Linked DNA regions of Homo sapiens: regions 1, 3 and 4 are each linked to region 2. Evidence: fine-mapped expression QTL. A gene starts in region 2. Each other region holds a variant in brackets. All regions are shown on one strand. Distances are between the middles of the regions. Region 1 has its middle 12 kb from the start of UBE4B. Region 2 holds the start of RBP7 (retinol binding protein 7). Region 3 overlaps CTNNBIP1 (catenin beta interacting protein 1). Region 4 holds the start of PGD (phosphogluconate dehydrogenase).

What was found.
Region 1: its variant is fine-mapped to the expression of RBP7 in whole blood (TOPMed, PIP 0.95).
Region 3: its variant is fine-mapped to the expression of RBP7 in whole blood (TOPMed, PIP above 0.99).
Region 4: its variant is fine-mapped to the expression of RBP7 in whole blood (TOPMed, PIP above 0.99).

Annotation. Positions count from the first base shown.
Region 1 is chr1:10,019,226-10,023,385 of GRCh38, forward strand. No RefSeq gene overlaps it. Among named protein-coding and RNA genes, the nearest start is that of UBE4B, 12 kb to the right of the region's middle. The variant T/C (reference allele first, on the strand shown) is at 2,499.
Region 2 is chr1:9,995,034-9,999,193 of GRCh38, forward strand. RBP7 (retinol binding protein 7) reads left to right here and starts at 2,195. Exons shown (of 4, transcript NM_052960.3): 1 at 2,195-2,298. The coding sequence starts at 2,226. LOC124903840 (basic salivary proline-rich protein 2-like) reads right to left here and starts at 3,056. Exons shown (of 2, transcript XM_047436754.1): 1 at 2,649-3,056; 2 at 1,686-1,819. The coding sequence starts at 2,997. The coding sequence ends at 1,686. It also overlaps a transcript of NMNAT1 not described here. RefSeq lists a silencer at 3,944-4,144.
Region 3 is chr1:9,868,683-9,872,842 of GRCh38, forward strand. It overlaps CTNNBIP1 (catenin beta interacting protein 1), which reads right to left. Exons shown (of 6, transcript NM_020248.3): 4 at 3,287-3,406; 5 at 2,505-2,595. The coding sequence starts at 3,382. Among named protein-coding and RNA genes, the nearest start is that of CTNNBIP1-AS1, 22 kb to the left of the region's middle. RefSeq lists enhancers at 2,672-3,600, 3,601-4,160. The variant C/T (reference allele first, on the strand shown) is at 1,919.
Region 4 is chr1:10,397,004-10,401,163 of GRCh38, forward strand. PGD (phosphogluconate dehydrogenase) reads left to right here and starts at 2,061. Exons shown (of 13, transcript NM_002631.4): 1 at 2,061-2,122; 2 at 2,626-2,701; 3 at 3,390-3,569. The coding sequence starts at 2,115. RefSeq lists an enhancer at 1,449-1,758 and silencers at 2,239-2,558, 2,651-2,827. The variant C/T (reference allele first, on the strand shown) is at 2,211.

The sequences.
Region 1 (4,160 bases), 24 kb after region 2:
GTTGTGTGTTTTCTTAAACTCTTTTTTTTTTTTTTTTTTTTTGATGGAGTCTTGCTCTGTCACCCAGGCTGGAGTACAGTGGCGTGATCTCGGCTCACTGCAACCTCTGCCTCCCAGGTTCATGCCATTCTCCTGCCTCAGCCTCCCGAGTAGCTGGGACTACAGGCACCCGCCACCACGCCCGGCTAATTTTTTGTATTTTTAGTAGAGACAGTGTTTCACTATGTTAGCCAGGATGGTCTCAATCTCCTGACCTCGTGATCTGCCCGCCTCGGCCTCCCAAAGTGCTGGGATTACAGGCGTGAGCCACCGCACCTGGCCCTTGTTAAATTCTTTGTTCAAAATGCCAAAAACCTGGACACCCTCCACTGGTACTGAAGCTCACTGAACCTCCTTGTTCAGGAGTTTTCATAGAGCTCCATCTCCAGCCCCCTTCCCTCCCAGGAGGTTGGGGTGGGGCTGTTTCCACCCTCTAATCAAAGTCCTCTAATTTGGTCTTTCTGGTGAGCAGCCCCAACCCTGAGTCACATCATTAGCATAGACTCTGGTGTGTTCTAAAGGGGCTCCTTATGAATAGCAAAAGACAATCCTATCACTCAGGAAATTCCAAGGAATTTAGGAGCCCTGTGCCAGAACCAGGGAAAAAGACCAAATATATATTTCATTAAACTTTACTACATGATACAAACTACAGTTTGGAAAGACATTTAGGAATGGTAGAACAAAACAAGTGAGAAAATATAATATGTAAAAGGTCTTTTTGTCATTTCAAAATACAAGAGGTAGCTGGGCATGGTGGCTCACACCTGTAATCCTAGCATTTTGGGAGGCTGAGGCAGGAGGATCCCTTGAGCCCAGGAGTTGGAGACCAGCCTGAACAACATACTGAGACCCCGTCTCTACAAAAAATAGAAAATTAGTTGGGTGTGGTGGTCCATGCCTGTAGTCCCAGCTACTCCAGAGGCTGAGGTGAGGGGATAGCTTAAGCCAGGAAGTTGAGGCTGCAGTGAGCCAAGATTGTGCCAGTGCACTCCAGACTGGACAACAGAGCAAGACCCTGTCTCAGGGGGCTGGCCACGCATGGTGACACATCCCTGTAGTCTGAGGAGCTCAAGGTTGCAACAGTGAGCCATGATCGCACCATTCCACTTCATCCTGGGCAACAGAGCAAAACCCTATCTCTATGAAAAAAAAAAAAAAGCAAGAGGCTATCTTCTCTGAGGTTTACTATAGTTAACTTTTACAAGTATTTAATCATAATTGCTTAGATTGAATTCGGTTCAGTATATATTCCTGGAAGTTCACTATTATTATTATTACTAGGTCCTGAGAATATGAAACAACCATAAAAATGAGTGATGAATTCAATATATATTATTCTGACACTGAGAAGTATTGTAACAAAAAACAAGTTTCTAGGTCATACCAAAAGCCGGGCAAAGTGGCAGATTCCTGTAATCCCAGCTACTCAGGAGGCTGAGGGGGGAGGATTGCTTGAACCCGGGAGGCAGAGGTTGCAGTGAGCAGAGATAGCGCCATGCCATTGCACTCCAGCCTGGGCAACAAGAGTGAAACTCCATCTCAAAAAAAAAAAAATCCTTTCATGAAATTACTACCAGATGTTGGCCCTTCAGCACAACCAGCTTGGAAGCTTCATCCTTAGCAAAGAAAGATCTTCAAAGCAGGCACTTCCATGATCCACATACTTTGGATGCCCTTAAAGGGGGGGAAAAAGGGAGAGGAAGGGAGGAGAGGAAGAGGAGGAGAAATAGCATTTCAATTCTGCTTTAATATATATATATTTTTTGAGACAGAGTCTCACTCTGTCATCCAGGCTGGAGTGCAGTGGTGCAATCTCCGCTCACTGCAACCTCCACCTCCCGGGTTTAAGTGATTCTCCTGCCTCAGCCTCCCTAGTAGCTGGGATTACAAGTGTGCACCACCACCATGGCCAGCTAATTTTTGTATTTTTAGTATTTTTGTATTTTTGTTTCGCCATGTTGGTTGGGCTGGTCTCCAACTCCTGGCCTCAAGTGATCCACCCACCTCAGCCTACCAAAATGCTCGGATTACAAGTGTGGCCCCTTGTAATAAAAATTTAATTTTTTGGAATATGACTCTTGGAGTTTTTCTTTTTCTTTTTTTACTTTTGGACTCTGTTGGACTTGAGTTGTTTTTCTTTAATGGCTTTATTGAGGTATATTTTATGTACCATAAAATGCACCTAAGTGTACAATTTGATAATTTCTAGTAAATGTACATAGGTGTACAACCATTCCTACAATCCAGTTTCAGAACAAGTCAATCACTCCAAAAAGTTCCCTAGAGACCATGTGCTGACAACTATTATTTTATAGGCTTTTCTTTTTCTTTTTCTTTTTTTTCTATTTCTGTTTGAGACAGAGTCTCTTTCTGTCACCCAGGGTGGAGTGGAGTGGCACAATCTCAGCTCACTGCAACCTCTGTCTCCTGGGTTCAAGGGATTCTCCTGCCTCAGC[T/C]TCCCAAGTAGCTGGGATTACAGGCACTTGCCACCACGCGCAGCTAATTTTTGCATTTTGAGTAGACAGGGGGTTTCACCATGTTGGCAAGGCTGGTCTCGAACTCCTGACCTCAGGTGATCTGCCCACCTTGGCCTGCTGGAGGTATGTGACAAACTGATGGCAAATGGATTATGCCCCCAATGGACAGTGTTCTCAAACCGTGATCTGAGGACCCGGGGATCCCGAGACCTTTTAAGGGTATCTGTGAGATCAAAGCTATTTTCATAATAATCCTGAGATGATATTTGCTCTTCATTCTCTCTCTCTCATGAGCATATGGGAGTTTTCCAGAGACTTCCTGCCAGGCCACATCACAACTGACCTGACCCAGAAGTACATCTGAGAATTCAGCTGTCTTCTATTAAGCCAGACATTAAAGAGATTTGCAAAAATGTCAAACAAGGCCACTCTGCATGTAATAGGCTTATCTTAAAAATGAATTAATATGTCTCTTGGTTGCCGTTTCTAATACAATCCATCTGCCTCGGCCTCCCAAAGTCCTGAGATTATAGGTATGAGCCGCTGCACCCGGCCTAGCCTTTTCATATGGAGTCTCAGACAGTGAAATTCAGTCAATATATTTATAATGAATACTTTATTTTTTGAGATGGAGTCTTGCTCTTGTCACCCAGGCTGGAGTGCAATGGCGTGATCTTGGCTCACTGCAACCTCCGCCTCCCAGGCTCAAGCGATTCTCCTGTCTCAGCCTCCTGAGTAGCTGGAATTACAGGCATGGGCCACCACGCCCGGCTAATTTTTGTGTATTTAGTAGAGATGGGGGTTTCACTATGTTGGCCAGGCTGGTCTCGAACTCCTGACCTCATGATCCACCTGCCTCAGCCTCCCAAAGTGCTGGAATTACAGGCGTGAGCCACTGTGCCTGGCCTATAATGAATACTTTTTAATATTCTCTTTGTTTCTGTCCACAGCAAGAATCTTTATTTCCTGAGACCTTTTGTAGCAGATTATTTTCCCTCAGTTTCTTGCCCTTAAGAGTCTTCGGTTCTCCACAGATAAGAGTTTTGCTTTTGATATTTCCTCGACCTGCTCATAAGGATTTCATTATAACTTCTGGGTGCAATCTTTAGGAGAGTTTGCAAAACAGTCTTTTTTTTTTTTGTAATGGAGTTTCGCTCCGTCACCCAGGCTGAAGTGCAGTGGTGCAATCTTGGCTCACTGCAACCTCCGCCTCCAGGGTTCAAGGGATTCTTGTGCCCCAGCCTCCCAAGTAGTTGGGATTACAGGCGCCCGCCACCACACCTGGCTAATTGTTGTATTTTTAGTAGAGATGGGGTTTTACCATGTTGCCCAGGCTGATCTCAACTCCTTTTTTTTTGAGACAGAGTCTCGCTCTGTTGCCCAGGCTGGAGTATAGTGGCATGATCTCGGCTCACTGCAACCTCTGCCTCCCGGGTTCAAGCGATTCTCTTGCCTTGGCCTCCTGAGTAGCTGGGACTACGGGCACATGCCATCATGCCCGGCTAATTTTTGCATTTTTAGTAGGGACGGGGTTTCACCATGTCGGCCAGGATGGTCTTGATCTCCTGACCTCGTGATCTGTCTGCCTCAGCCTCCCAAAGTGCTGGGATTACAGGCGTGAGCCACCTCACCCAGCCAAGT
Region 2 (4,160 bases):
TACCATGCACGGACTGCTAGCTTTTATTATATTTGAGTCTGGAACTCATGGGAGAGGTCATAAATTGACATATAAATCTTGAGCTGGACACAGTGGCTTACACCTGTAATCCCAGCACTTTGGGAGGCCAAGGTTGGAGGGTTGCTTGAGCCTAGGAGTTTGAGACCAACCGCCGGCAACACAGGGATACTCCATCTCTATAAAAAATTAAAAAAATTAGTCAGGCATGGTGGCACATGCCTGTAGTTGTAGCTACTTAGAAGGCTGAGGCAGGAAGATCACTTGAACTCAGGAGGTTGAGGCTACAGTGAACCATGATCATACCACTGCACTCCAGCCTAGGCAACAGAGCAAGACTCTATCTCAAAAAATAGTCAGTCTGGGTGTGGTGGCTCATGCCTGTAATTCCAGCACTTTGGGAAGCTTAGGTGGGTGGATCTTTTAAGGTTGGGAGTTCGAGACCTACCTGGCCAACATGGTGAAACTCCACCTCTTCTAAAATATATAAAAATTAGCCAGGCATGGTGGCAGGTACCTGTAATCCCAGCTACTCAGGAGGCTGAGGCAGGAGAGTTGCTTGAACCCAAGAGGCGGAGGTTGCAGTGAGCCAAGATTGCACCATTGCACTCCAGCCTAGGCGACAGAGTGAGAGTCTGTCTCAAAAAATAAAATAGAATAAAATAAAATAAAAAGAATAAATGAAAAAATAAATACCGCGGGTGCGGTGGCTCACACCTATAATCCCAGCACTTTGGGAGGCTGAGGCAGGCGAATCACGAGGTCAGGAGCTCAAGACCAGCCTAGCCAACATGATGAAACCCCCATCTCCACTAAAAATACAAAAAATTAGTTGGGCATGGTGATGGGCACCTGTGATCCCAGCTACTCGGGAGGCTGAGGCAGGAGAATCACTTGAACCTGGGAGGCGGAGGTTGCAGTGAGCCGAGATGGAACCACTGCCCTCCAGCCCGGGGCGATAGAGTGAGACTCCCTCTCTGCCGGGCGCAGTGGCTCAGGCCTGTAATCCCAGCACTTTGGGAGGCCAAGGCGGGCGGATCACAAGGTCATGAGATCGAGACCATCCTGGCTAACACGGTGAAACCCCGTCTCTAATAAAAATATAAAAAGTTAGCCGGGCGTGTTGGCGGGCGCCTGTAGTCCCAGCTACTCGGGAGGCTGAGGCAGGAGAATGGCGTGAACCCCGGAGGCGGAGCTTGCAGTGAGCCGAGATCTCTCCACTGCACTCCAGCCTGGGCACAGAGCGAGACTCCGTCTCAAAAAAAAAAAAAAAAAGAAAAAAGAAAGAGTGAGACTCTGTCTCAAAAGAAAAAAAATAAAAATAAAATCAATAAGTCAGTCTTGGAGCCAGCATATCTAGGCGGTGTTTGTGGCTAATGTTGTAGGTTAGCCCATATTCCCACCCCTTCTCCTTTGCTTTTCTCTGCTCTGAGGCTAAATGCTGCAGACTAGAATCCCCAGGCCCCCTTGCAGTTAGAAGTGGCATTGATACAGTTTTGGCTAATGAAATGTACACAGAAACCTGCTGGGTAATTTCTTTTCTTTTTTCCAACTATCCAGACTTATAGGAGATGGGGAGGTTTGTGCTGCAGGGATACTGACCTTTGGTGCTTTCCCTCTTCCCTACCTTGAATGTGGATGTCCTGGCTGGGAACCCAGCTGCCAGCTCATGACCAGGAGGTAACAAGCAGGAATAAAAGGCCACCAGAGTCACAGAGACGAAGCTGCGGCGTTACCGAGGTGCGAATCACTGTGATTCCTAGGTGCGAATCATCACCAGCAATCACTTCTCTCAGGACTCCTTGTTAAGAAAAATAAACTCCTATTTATTGAGACCATGAGAGTTACGTTGAGAGGTATATTGTTATTGAAGCTGACAATATTCAATGCCATGAGTTTGAAGATCATCCCTGGGTCATTAACATATAAGCAGGGAAGAAAATGTGGCCCGAAACAGTCTGGGACATGAGAAAGCAGTAGGAGAGGAAGCCCCAAGGAAAGGGGGAAGCTGCCGCGCGGTGGGCAGAGCCAGGAGCACCGGGCTGAGGCGGCCGGGAGCGCAGCGGCTTCTAGGGGTGAGTGGGACCCACGCGGCCCCACCTGCTCCTCCCGCGCGCGGCCCCACCCCCCTGCCCCGCCCCGCCTGGTTTATAGGTCCCGGCCCGAGCCTCCGGCCGCCCGCCGGGTTTGTCCCGCGATCCCCGACCATGCCCGCCGACCTCAGCGGTACTTGGACCCTGCTCAGCAGCGACAACTTCGAGGGCTACATGCTGGCCCTAGGTAAGGCGGAGGGGAGGCGGCGGCGGCGCGAGGCTCGCCGTGGGTCTCGGGATCAGGCGAAGGCGGCCGGGCCGGGCCTGTAGGTACGTCCTCTGTCCGTGCCTCCGCCCTGCTGCGCCCACCGTCGCCCAGTCGCCCCCGAGTCCGCTGGTCCTTGGCGCCTCCGTCCATCGGGCGCGGGACCCCAGTCCTTCAGTCCCCCAGTCCGTCCTTTCCCGCGCCCACCCGCCCCCCTGTCCCCACGGCCGTCTCTCCACGCCCTCTGTTCCCCCGGCCGTCGGTCCCCCACCCGTCCGTCCCTGAGTGCCCGCGTCCAGCCCCACGTCCGTCTCTACCCGCACGCGGCACACCTGCGGAGACTGCAGACTCGGGGTCCGGCCGGGGAGGGGGGTCCGGCCGGGGAGGGGGCGCCCGGGACCGAAGCCTCTGCCCGGCCACCCTCCCCGCAGCCGCCTTCCGTGCAGGCCCCGGGGCCCCGGGCGCGCTCCCGCAGCGAAGTCCCAGCAGCCTCGGCGCACCCGGAGCGGGTCGGGGATGCAGAATCCTGGAGCCAGCGGACGACCCTTCAGGTCCGGGCACCCGCGGGAGTGCAGAGCCTGGTTCGGCCCGGGGCGTGCCCCGACCGCCGCCTCCCACGAGGGCTGGGTGCCCGCGGCGTTCTTGCTCCCGGGGGCCCCGCGCTGTGCTTCCCGCCCTCATCGCGGTGCCAACGGTGCGCGGACTCTCAACTCACTGCAACCTCCGCCTCCTCGGTTCAAGCGATTCTCCTGCCACAGCCTTCCAAGTAGCTGGGATTACACGCGTGCGCCAGCCACCACGTCCGGCTAATTTTGTACTTTTAGTAGAGAAGGGGTTTCACTATATTGGTCAGGCTGGTGTCCAACTCCTGACCTCAGGTGATCCACCCGCCTTGGCCTCCCAAAGTGCTGGGATTACAGGTGTGAGCCACGCGCCCTGCCACGAGTGTAGTTTTTCTTGTAGCTTTAGGAATCTGGGAAGTTGCCGTGCCGGCCAATCCCTGAACCCTTGACCCGTGGGCAATTTTTGTTTTCTTTTTTTCTTTCTTTCTTTCTTTCTTTTTTTTTTTTTTTTTTGAGACGGAGTCTCGCTCTGTTGCCCAGGCTGGAGTGCAGTAGTACGATCTCGGCTCACTGCAAGCTCCGCCTACCGGGTTCACGCCATTTTCCTGCCTCAGCCTCTCCGAGTAGCTGGGACTATAGGCGCCCGCCACCACGCCCAGCTAATTTTTGTATTTTTTAGTAGAAACGGGGTTTCACCATGTTGGCCAGGCTGGTCTCGAACATCTGCCCTCGTGATCTGCCCACCTTGGCCTCCCAAAGTGCTGGGATTACAGGCGTGAGGCACCGCACCGGCCAATTTTTGTTTTCTTAACCTTAGGGCCCATCTTAGTTGATAAAGGGGCATTTATTTTGCTCTTTCATATCCCAAGAGATAAGAGTGTTCCTCTGGGTATGGGAAAAGCACCTCTCACTTGAGAGTCTTATGATCTTCTTCAGAGGAAGAGCAGAGAATTCTTTTATGGCCTGCTTCAGGGAAGAGGGGCAAAAGAAGGTCTGAGGGGGACCTTCCTGCTACTGTTATTTCCTCAAATGCCAAGTGATATGGTTTGGCTGTGTCCCCACCCAAATCTCATGGGAGTTGTAGTTCCCATAATTCTCATGTGTTGTGGGAGGGACCTGAGGAGAGGTAATTGAATCATGGGGTAGTTTTCCCCACACTGTTCTGGTGGTAGTGAATGTCTCATGAGATTTGATGGTTTTACAAGGGGTTTCCCCTTTCATTTGGCTCTCATTCTCTCTTGCCTGCCACCATGTAAGACGTGCCTTTTGCCTTCTGCCATG
Region 3 (4,160 bases), 130 kb before region 2:
AGTGGTGTGATCTTGGCTCATCGCAAGCTCCGCCTCCCAGATTCAAGCGGTTCTCCTGCCTTAATCTCCCAAGTAGCTGGGTAGCTGGGACTACTGGCACCTGCCACCATGCTCAGCTAATTTTTGTATTTTTAATAGAGACAGGATGTTGCCATGTTGGCCAGGCTGGTCTTGAACTCCTGGCCTCAGGTGATCTGCCCACCTTGGCCTCCCAAAGTGCTGGGATTACAGGCATGAACCACCACGCCCAGCACCCCTTGTCAAAAACAAAATTTCTGACAGTCTGGTATATATTCCACCAGCTTCTTTGTCTTTTAAAAATTTTTTAAATTTATGAGACAGAGTCTCCCTCTGTTGCCCAGGCTGGGGTGCAGTGGTGCGATCATGGCTCACTGCAGCATCAACCTCCTGGGCTCAAGCGATCCTCTCACCTCAGCCTCCCTAGTAGCTAGGACTACAGACGTGTGCCACCACAGCCAGCTAGTTTTTGTATTTTTTGTAGCGAGAGGGTCTCCCTATGTTGCCCAGGCTGGTCTTGAGCTCCTGGGCTCAAGCAATCCTCTTGCCATGGCCTCTCAAAGTGCTGGGATGACAGGCGTGAGCCACTGCACCTGGCCACCAGCTTTTTTTTCTATGTGCATATACAGCTTGTGTCTTGTGTGTATGTGTGTTGTTGCTGGGGTTTTGTTTTGTTTTGTTTTGTTTTTTGAGACGGAGTCTTGCTCTGCTGCCCAGGCTGGAGTGCAGCGGTGAGATCTTGGCTTCCCAAGTAGCTGGGATTACACCTGCATGCTACCATGCCCAGCTAACTTTTGTATTTTTAGTAGAGATGGGGTTTCGCCACGTTGGTCAGGCTGGTCTAGAACTCCTGACCTCAGGTGATCCACCTGCCTTGGCCTCCCAAAATGCTGGGATTACAGCTGTGAGCCACCGTACCCGGCCTGTTGCTGCTTTTTATACTGACATATGGTCCTACATTTTGATGTCTCCTATTTTGATTTTTTCCCAAGAGTATTCAACTGGAGGCTTTCTTACCATCCGAGCTCAAATTCAGGTTAACTCAGTGACCAAGACTAAGTGGGAAGGAAGGTGAGTCTCCAGGGACTCAGAAGCCTGAAGGTTTCAGGTTGACATGAGTCAGAAGCCATGGTAGAGGGTGCCATGCTAGAAACCCAGATTAGCCCTGGAAGAGAAGAGACCTCACCCAAGAGATCCCAGGATGGGGCGGGAGCCGACGCCACATAGAACAGGCTGCCGCATGATCCAGGAGGCACACCTGGGCAGACACACCCAGGCAGGTTGTGCGTGGTGAGCTGCTGTCCCAGGGAGCTGCCTGAGCCACTGCCTGGAAGGTTTCTGCTGAGTTGGGTGCACAAGCCAGGTCACACCCAGCATCGGTGCTTGGGAACAGGCCCCTGTGCCAGGACAGAGCCCTAAGACATCCAGGAGAACAAGGGCTGGCTGGTGATCTAGGTCAGGCCCCGCATGCCAGCCTCAAAGCACAGCAAACGCAGCCGTCAGCACTCTGCTTTCGGGGGCCCGCTCGCGTCTGGACATGCCACAGGTTGTAATATTTCATGGCCAATCATTCCAACAAAGCATAAAGAGAATAAAAGGAAAGGACTCTATGGAGATGCTGGTCAGAATACTAGGCCTCTGTGTCATGAGAAGCCTTCTAGAGAAGGAGAACCTTGCTGAGCAGCCAAGGGACATGGAGCTGTCCAGTAGCCATGTGGGTTATGGGCAAGATGGCAGACAGTGAAGCGCTCCTCAGCCACAGGTGTACATCCCGGGACTCCCCAGTAACCACCTGGCTGCATGACCAAGTGGCTTACTGTTCCCAAATCCCAGTTTCCTTGCCTGTTAAGTGGAAGTATTAATAATACAAATAGTAGCTACCTACAATAGAATGAAACAA[C/T]GGTGCCTGCTACACAACAAACACTCACATCCTGCCTGTTACCATGCTGACTTGTTGAGGTCACCCCAAAAAGACAGAACTCCCTCAGGCGCACGGAGACATCAGGCCTTTGGGGCATTCCTCCTGGCCACAGCCAGGACCACACCAGCCACAATGTGGTCTGTGCTCAGGACAACAGTGACAGCATTGTTCTAGCACACAAGGGCAGTTTCTCTCTCCTGGACAGGGTGCTGGGTGGGTAGGGGTCAGGCCAAAGGTTAAAGAAATGCAATAATCAGTCTCTGCAGTTATGAGCGCCCCCAGACATCTCCATTTCCTGCCTCTTCCAGGCCTTAGAAAGGGATCCTGCCATTTGTCTTGTAGAGTCTTTGGCTCCCACCTGAGGAAGGAGATGGGATCAGGTGGGAGGCTCCGAAGGTTTCCTGGCTCAGCTCTGTGGGTGGAGAGAGCTGTAGCCCCTCCTAGTCAGCCCTGGGTCTCATGGATCACCCATCAAAGAGGGCTGGAGCTACGCTTTCTAAGGGAACCACAAGTCGGTGCCCCTGGGACTTGTGCCACTGCCCCAGCCCCTCTGCCGCCAACTCACCCTGGTCGATGGAGTGCGGAGGCAGCTGGCTGAGCTGGCTGTTGACCACCCCTGCATAGGTGCGCAGGAACTCCTCCTCGCTGGCTGTCAGCTGCAGGGTGAGAGAGCTGTGGTGAGGGGCAGCATGCACCTGTTCCCTGAAAGGCACCTGCACCCCTAGAGGCACCGCCTAGGCCTGCTTGGTCCCTGCTTGGTCCCTGCTCGGGCTTCTGTTTCTGAGATTTGACCCCTTTGCTTTCAGGGCCAGCCCACCCCACTCCCACCCTCCTTAAACTTGGTCCAGGGGTCCAAAGCCTTTGCCACTCAGACTGAATCTGAGATTAAGGTCTGTTCTAGTATAGGGCCAGTGGAAGACACAAGTCCTGCCCGGAAGGCTGAGGGGCGATTCCATGTCCCTCCACTCTTTTTGAGAAATACCCCTGCACATGCATGCCTGCTGCCCCCTCAGCTCCTGTCCTGACAAGTTGTCCCTGAGCTGCCCCCTGGGAGAGAAGACTTTCGGGCTTGTGAGGGGGAGAAAAGGAAGGTCAGGGCCTTGAGACCCTCACCCGCCTGGCCCCAATCCGGCAGTGTCGGGTGTCCCCAGAACTTGACGTGCTGGGCTCTGTGCCTAGGGGGCCAGAAGCAGCCCTAGAGCCAAGCCACAGGCCCAGCGGCCCCTCCTCAGCCCGTGGCTCCGCAGGAGGCAGCCGCAGTGGCTCCACCCTCCAATAGCCCAGCAGGGCCCCTCCCTGGGAGACCCTCCCTGGGGGCCCGCTGCCTGACACCCCACAGGCACTCACGTTTGATCCCATCTTCCGCAGCATGAGCAGCACTCGGACCTTCTGCTGAATGTACATCTCCTCCGGACTCTTCCCGGGAGCTCCCTCGCGGTTCATCCCCCTGCCTGGCTCTGGGGACTCCTGCAGAGCAAGCAACAGCATCAAAAGGGAAGAGATCAGGATGTGACATACTGGGACAATGACACCTGCTAGTGACCCTCACTCCTCCCAGGAGCCGCTTTCCACCCACAGTCTCCCTTCTGGGAGCATGGGGCAGGTGGCGAGGTGCTGGGTTCCTTTCTCACCCATGCTGGTCCCAGCAGGCTGAACTGAGCAGCTCTGTTCTCCAGCAGGCGCTGCAAGGGCTGGCCTGCCTGCTGCCTCTGTGCATGAAGCTGCTGCGTCCAGGAAAACTGAGATGACCTGGACTGCTGGTTGTTTCTACCTGTGAATCACCCCAGAGCAAAGCTCCTGCTACAAGCCACAGGACACGTGGTGCATGAAGCCCCAAATGTCCCAGGTTTTCAGAACAACTTCCACAAGGGGCAAAAAAGTGATGGGATCAGAGGCAACTGGTTAGGGCCTTTGGCTCGAGAAACTGTGAGATCAGTGCCCAGCCCCCAAACACTGAGACAGCTCCCTCGGCAAAAGCCCCTGACAAGTTTAAGAGGCCAGGGTTGTGGCTCCTGGGCTGGGCTCCAAGGGGTCCCTTGATGGAAAGACGCTGGCCCAGGGTTGCAGGGCTTGCTACCTCAGCCCTCACAAACCCACCCCACCTGTCAGAGGGTAGCTCCTGCAGGCAGCTGGGAAGGCCAGCAGCGTGTCCACATGCAGCAGGGACCTAACCTGTAGAAAGTCCCCAGGAGAGAAGTCCAGAGCCCCCTCCCTCCAGGAG
Region 4 (4,160 bases), 400 kb after region 2:
AACAATCCAAATGTCTATCAACAGATAAATGGATAAGCAAATGATGACACAATTGCATTAATGGAATACCACTCAGCAATGAAAAGGAACAAACCACTCATACCTACAACACAGATGAGCCTCAGAAACGTGATGCTAAGTGAAAGAAGCCAGACCAAAAAAATTATATGCTATTATTCCATTTCTATGAAATTTCTGGAAAAGGCAAAAACCATGCAAAGTAGATCAGAGGTTGGCTGGGGGTGAGAGCAGAGACTGACTACAAATAGGCCCAAGGGAACGTTTTGGGGTGATGGAAGTTTTCTATAAGTGGATTATGGTGATGGCTACACAACAGTATAAATTAAAGGTCATCCAAATGTGTACTTACAATGTTTGAATTGTATGACATGTAAATTATCTCATTAAATCTGTATTTTAAAAAAAGAACTGTGCTGTGAAGTTTGACATATTTTAAAGTAGGATGTCTTAGCCGGGCATGGTGTTGCATGCCTGTAGTCCTAGCTACTCAGGAAGTTGAGGCTAGAAGATTGCTCGACCTCAGGAGTTCAAGGCTGCAGTAAGCTATGGTCATGCCACTGCACTCCAGCCTGGGCAACAGAGCAAAGACCTGGTCTTTATAAAAATTAAAAACCGGCCGGGCACAGTGGCTCACACCTCTAATCCCAGAACTTTGGGAGGCTGAGGTGGGTGGATCACTTGAGGTTAGGAGTTCGAGACCAGCCTGGCCAACATGGTGAAACCCTGTCTCTACTAAAAATAAAAACATTAGCTGGGCATGGTGGCACACACCTGTAGTCCCAGCTACTTGGGAGGCTGAGGCAGGAGAATCGCTTGAACCTGGGAGGTGGAGGTTGCAGTGAGCCCAGATCGCGCCACTGCCCTCCAGCCTGGAGACACAGCCAGACTCCATCTCAACAATGACATCAAAAAAAGGCCGGGCACGGTGGCTCACGCCGGTAATCTCAGCACTTTGGGAGGCCAAGGCGGGCGGATCACGAGGTCAGGAGTTTGAGACCAGCCTGGCCAAGATGGTGAAACCCCATCTCTACTAAAAATACAAAAATTAGCTGGGCGTGGTGGCGGGCGCCTGTAATCCCAGCTACTTGGGAGGCTGAGGCAGGAAAATTGCTTGAACCCGGGAGGCGGAAGGTGCAGTGAGCTGAGATCACACCACTGCATTCCAGCCCGGGCGACAGTGCGAGACTCCGTCTCAAAAAAAACAAAAAAAATCTAAAACTCAAACTTCTGAATAACAATTTCCTCCTAGCAAGAAGGGACTCAGTAAGATAAGAAGCGCTGCTTGGCTACTTTGCAAATGTCTGGCTTAAGATGGCTGGTTTTTTGTATCTGCCTCTGCATTTAACCTGGTCCATCTCGCGGGTCACATAGCCTCTACAAAATGAGAAGGGGTTCAATACCGTTAACTCCGGGCCTGGGTAAAAGACTCAAGTCCTGACCCCATCATACTCCAACCAATACATACCCCGCCTGCGCTGTCTGCGCCTGGGTCTCTTCAACCGCAGTGAGCGGTCGCACGGCTCCACATCAGGGTCGCCCTGAGGCTCAGCCTTCCCCGGCCCCATTCCGAGTGCGCACAGGACTGAACGAGCACGCCCGGTCCCTGCTCCGGAGCGGAGGACACGACGCGGACCCGCACGGTGCACCGCAGTGACCTGAGGAAGGAGCGACGGGCGCTCGCGCCAAAGGCGTCCGAGTGCCTGGTAAACTGTAAAGCGCGGTCCTGCGTGAGTTGCTATGGCTACAGCTGCGCCAGGCGGACGGCCTGCAGGACCGAGGTGCAGCTGGGACGAGCGGAAAGCTCTGCGCGTGGGCGGGGAGCCCGGAGCCTCGCCGGGGCAATGTCATCTAGGTGCTCGGCGCTCCACTGATCCGGCCCCCGGGGGTGGGCGGGCACGTTTGCCTCGGATGGTCTAACAGGCGTCGGGGAGAGCCAATGGTGTGGCTTCATGGCTCCACCCCCTTCCATTCGATTGGCCGGCGCCGAAAAGCCGGGCGTGAGCGGCCGCAGTTTCTGGAGGGAGCCGCTGCGGGTCTTTCCCTCACTCGTCCTCCGCGCGTCGCCGCTCTTCGGTTCTGCTCTGTCCGCCGCCATGGCCCAGTGAGTGACTCGCCAGGGGCAGCCCGGCTCGGCCTCAGCGGGCGGGGAACTCTTTGGGGGTCGAGATCTCCCTCGTTCTCTCCGACGC[C/T]TCCCACCCTGGGGGTCGCCTGAGCTCACTTGGGGCTCTGTGACCCTGGCCCTACGGCGTCTCGGGCCCAGAGCTCCTTCCCTGCGGGCCCGGCCCCCTGCCCTCTCGGCCGCGCAGGCATGGGGCGGGGCGGGTCCCTTCGAGGGCCAGGGAGGAGGCGCGGCCAGGCCTCGCCGAGTCTGCAGGGACACCTGCGGGACGCGTGCCAGCGGGAGCCGGGCGCGAGGGCGGGGCTGGGGGCCGCCTGCCCGGCCGAGGCTCTGCAGCGTGCGCGCCCGGCTTCTGGGGGCCCGCGGGAGGCGCGGAGGAAAGTGCAGACTCCCAGTCACGGCCAAATGTGGAAGGACCGGACCCCTGGGTTGCAGCGCGTCGAGCGGTGCTGACTCTTTCCTTTGTTCTGTTTCTGCCTCTCTAGAGCTGACATCGCGCTGATCGGATTGGCCGTCATGGGCCAGAACTTAATTCTGAACATGAATGACCACGGCTTTGTGGTAAGCGGCGTGGGCGCGTTGTCTTCTCTCTGGTTCCCGGGCGCTTTAGCCGAGGCCGGCGATAGGTTTGGGAGCTTACGGGTCTCCTGGCCGTGCTTTGCTAATGTGCTCTGTTGCTGCTCGTGGCATTTTTGTATGGAAAGGAGAAGCACCCTGTAGGCGTGGGCGGGCCGATCCCGAACTTAGTCCTGCGGAGTGTGCCTGTGGGTCCGTGAGGTTCACAGCCCGAATGAACGAATTAGTGTCTTAAGTAGAGAAGAAGGGTGCGGGAGGAGAACCCTTGCTGGCTGTGTAGAGCTCTAACTTGATTGCCTGATGAGATCTGGGGAGAGTGAAAATGTTTCTTCTAAATGTTAAAGTGGCTTAGACGCCAGGATGATCAATAACAACAGATAGAGCCTGTTGAACCGGCCAGTTCCTGGATTTGATTTTGAGTCCTAACACGTTGGGTGTGGATTCTACCTGACACACCGGGGGTAGTTGGCCTTCGCCTCGGTTGTCCGCCGTTTTCATCCTACTGAGGTGACATAACTTTACAGTGAGCCTCCCACAGCTGGGGGAAGAAAAGGCAAAGGCAGGTCTGACCTCCCCAGAACTTGGGTTGAATGGAAAGGTCATTGTTACTTTGGCCACAGTCTGAAAGTCTTGTGTGTCCTGGATCTCCTACTCAGGACTTTTGTCCTTCTAGGTCTGTGCTTTTAATAGGACTGTCTCCAAAGTTGATGATTTCTTGGCCAATGAGGCAAAGGGAACCAAAGTGGTGGGTGCCCAGTCCCTGAAAGAGATGGTCTCCAAGCTGAAGAAGCCCCGGCGGATCATCCTCCTGGTGAAGGCTGGGCAAGCTGTGGATGATTTCATCGAGAAATTGGTGAGGCCAGCTGTGCTCTCAGCTGCTACCACGATAGCAGCTGTTTTTGGTTTCTTCCTTTAGTTCTCCTTCTTTTAACTCTAGAGATTTTTTTTTTTCAATTTCTGCTAAGCTCTGACCAAATGATTGCTTAACTGTTGCAGTGTTGGTTAACTTGATAAGCGCTTATGAAGTAACTTTGTCCTTTGGTGGTAGTAATTCTGAGAATACTAACAGACATTTCAATAAACATTAAGGCGGGGCACAGTGGCTCAGGCCTGTAATCCCAGCACTTTTTGGGAGGCTGGTTCAGATGGATCGTTTGAGCCCAGGAGTTCGAGACCAGCCTGGGCAACATGGCGAAACCCTGTCTCTACATAAAATTAAAAAATTAGCTGGGTATGGTGGTGTAAGCTTATGGTCCCAGCTACAAGCTTATGGTCCCAGGTTCGAGACCAGCCTGGCCAACATGGTGAAACCCCGTCTCTACTAAAAATATAAAAATTAGCTGGGCTTTGTGGCTCATGCCTGTAATCCCAGTTACTCGGGAGGCTGAGGAATGAGAATCACTTGAACCTGGGAGGTGGAGGTTACAGTGACCTGAGATTGTGC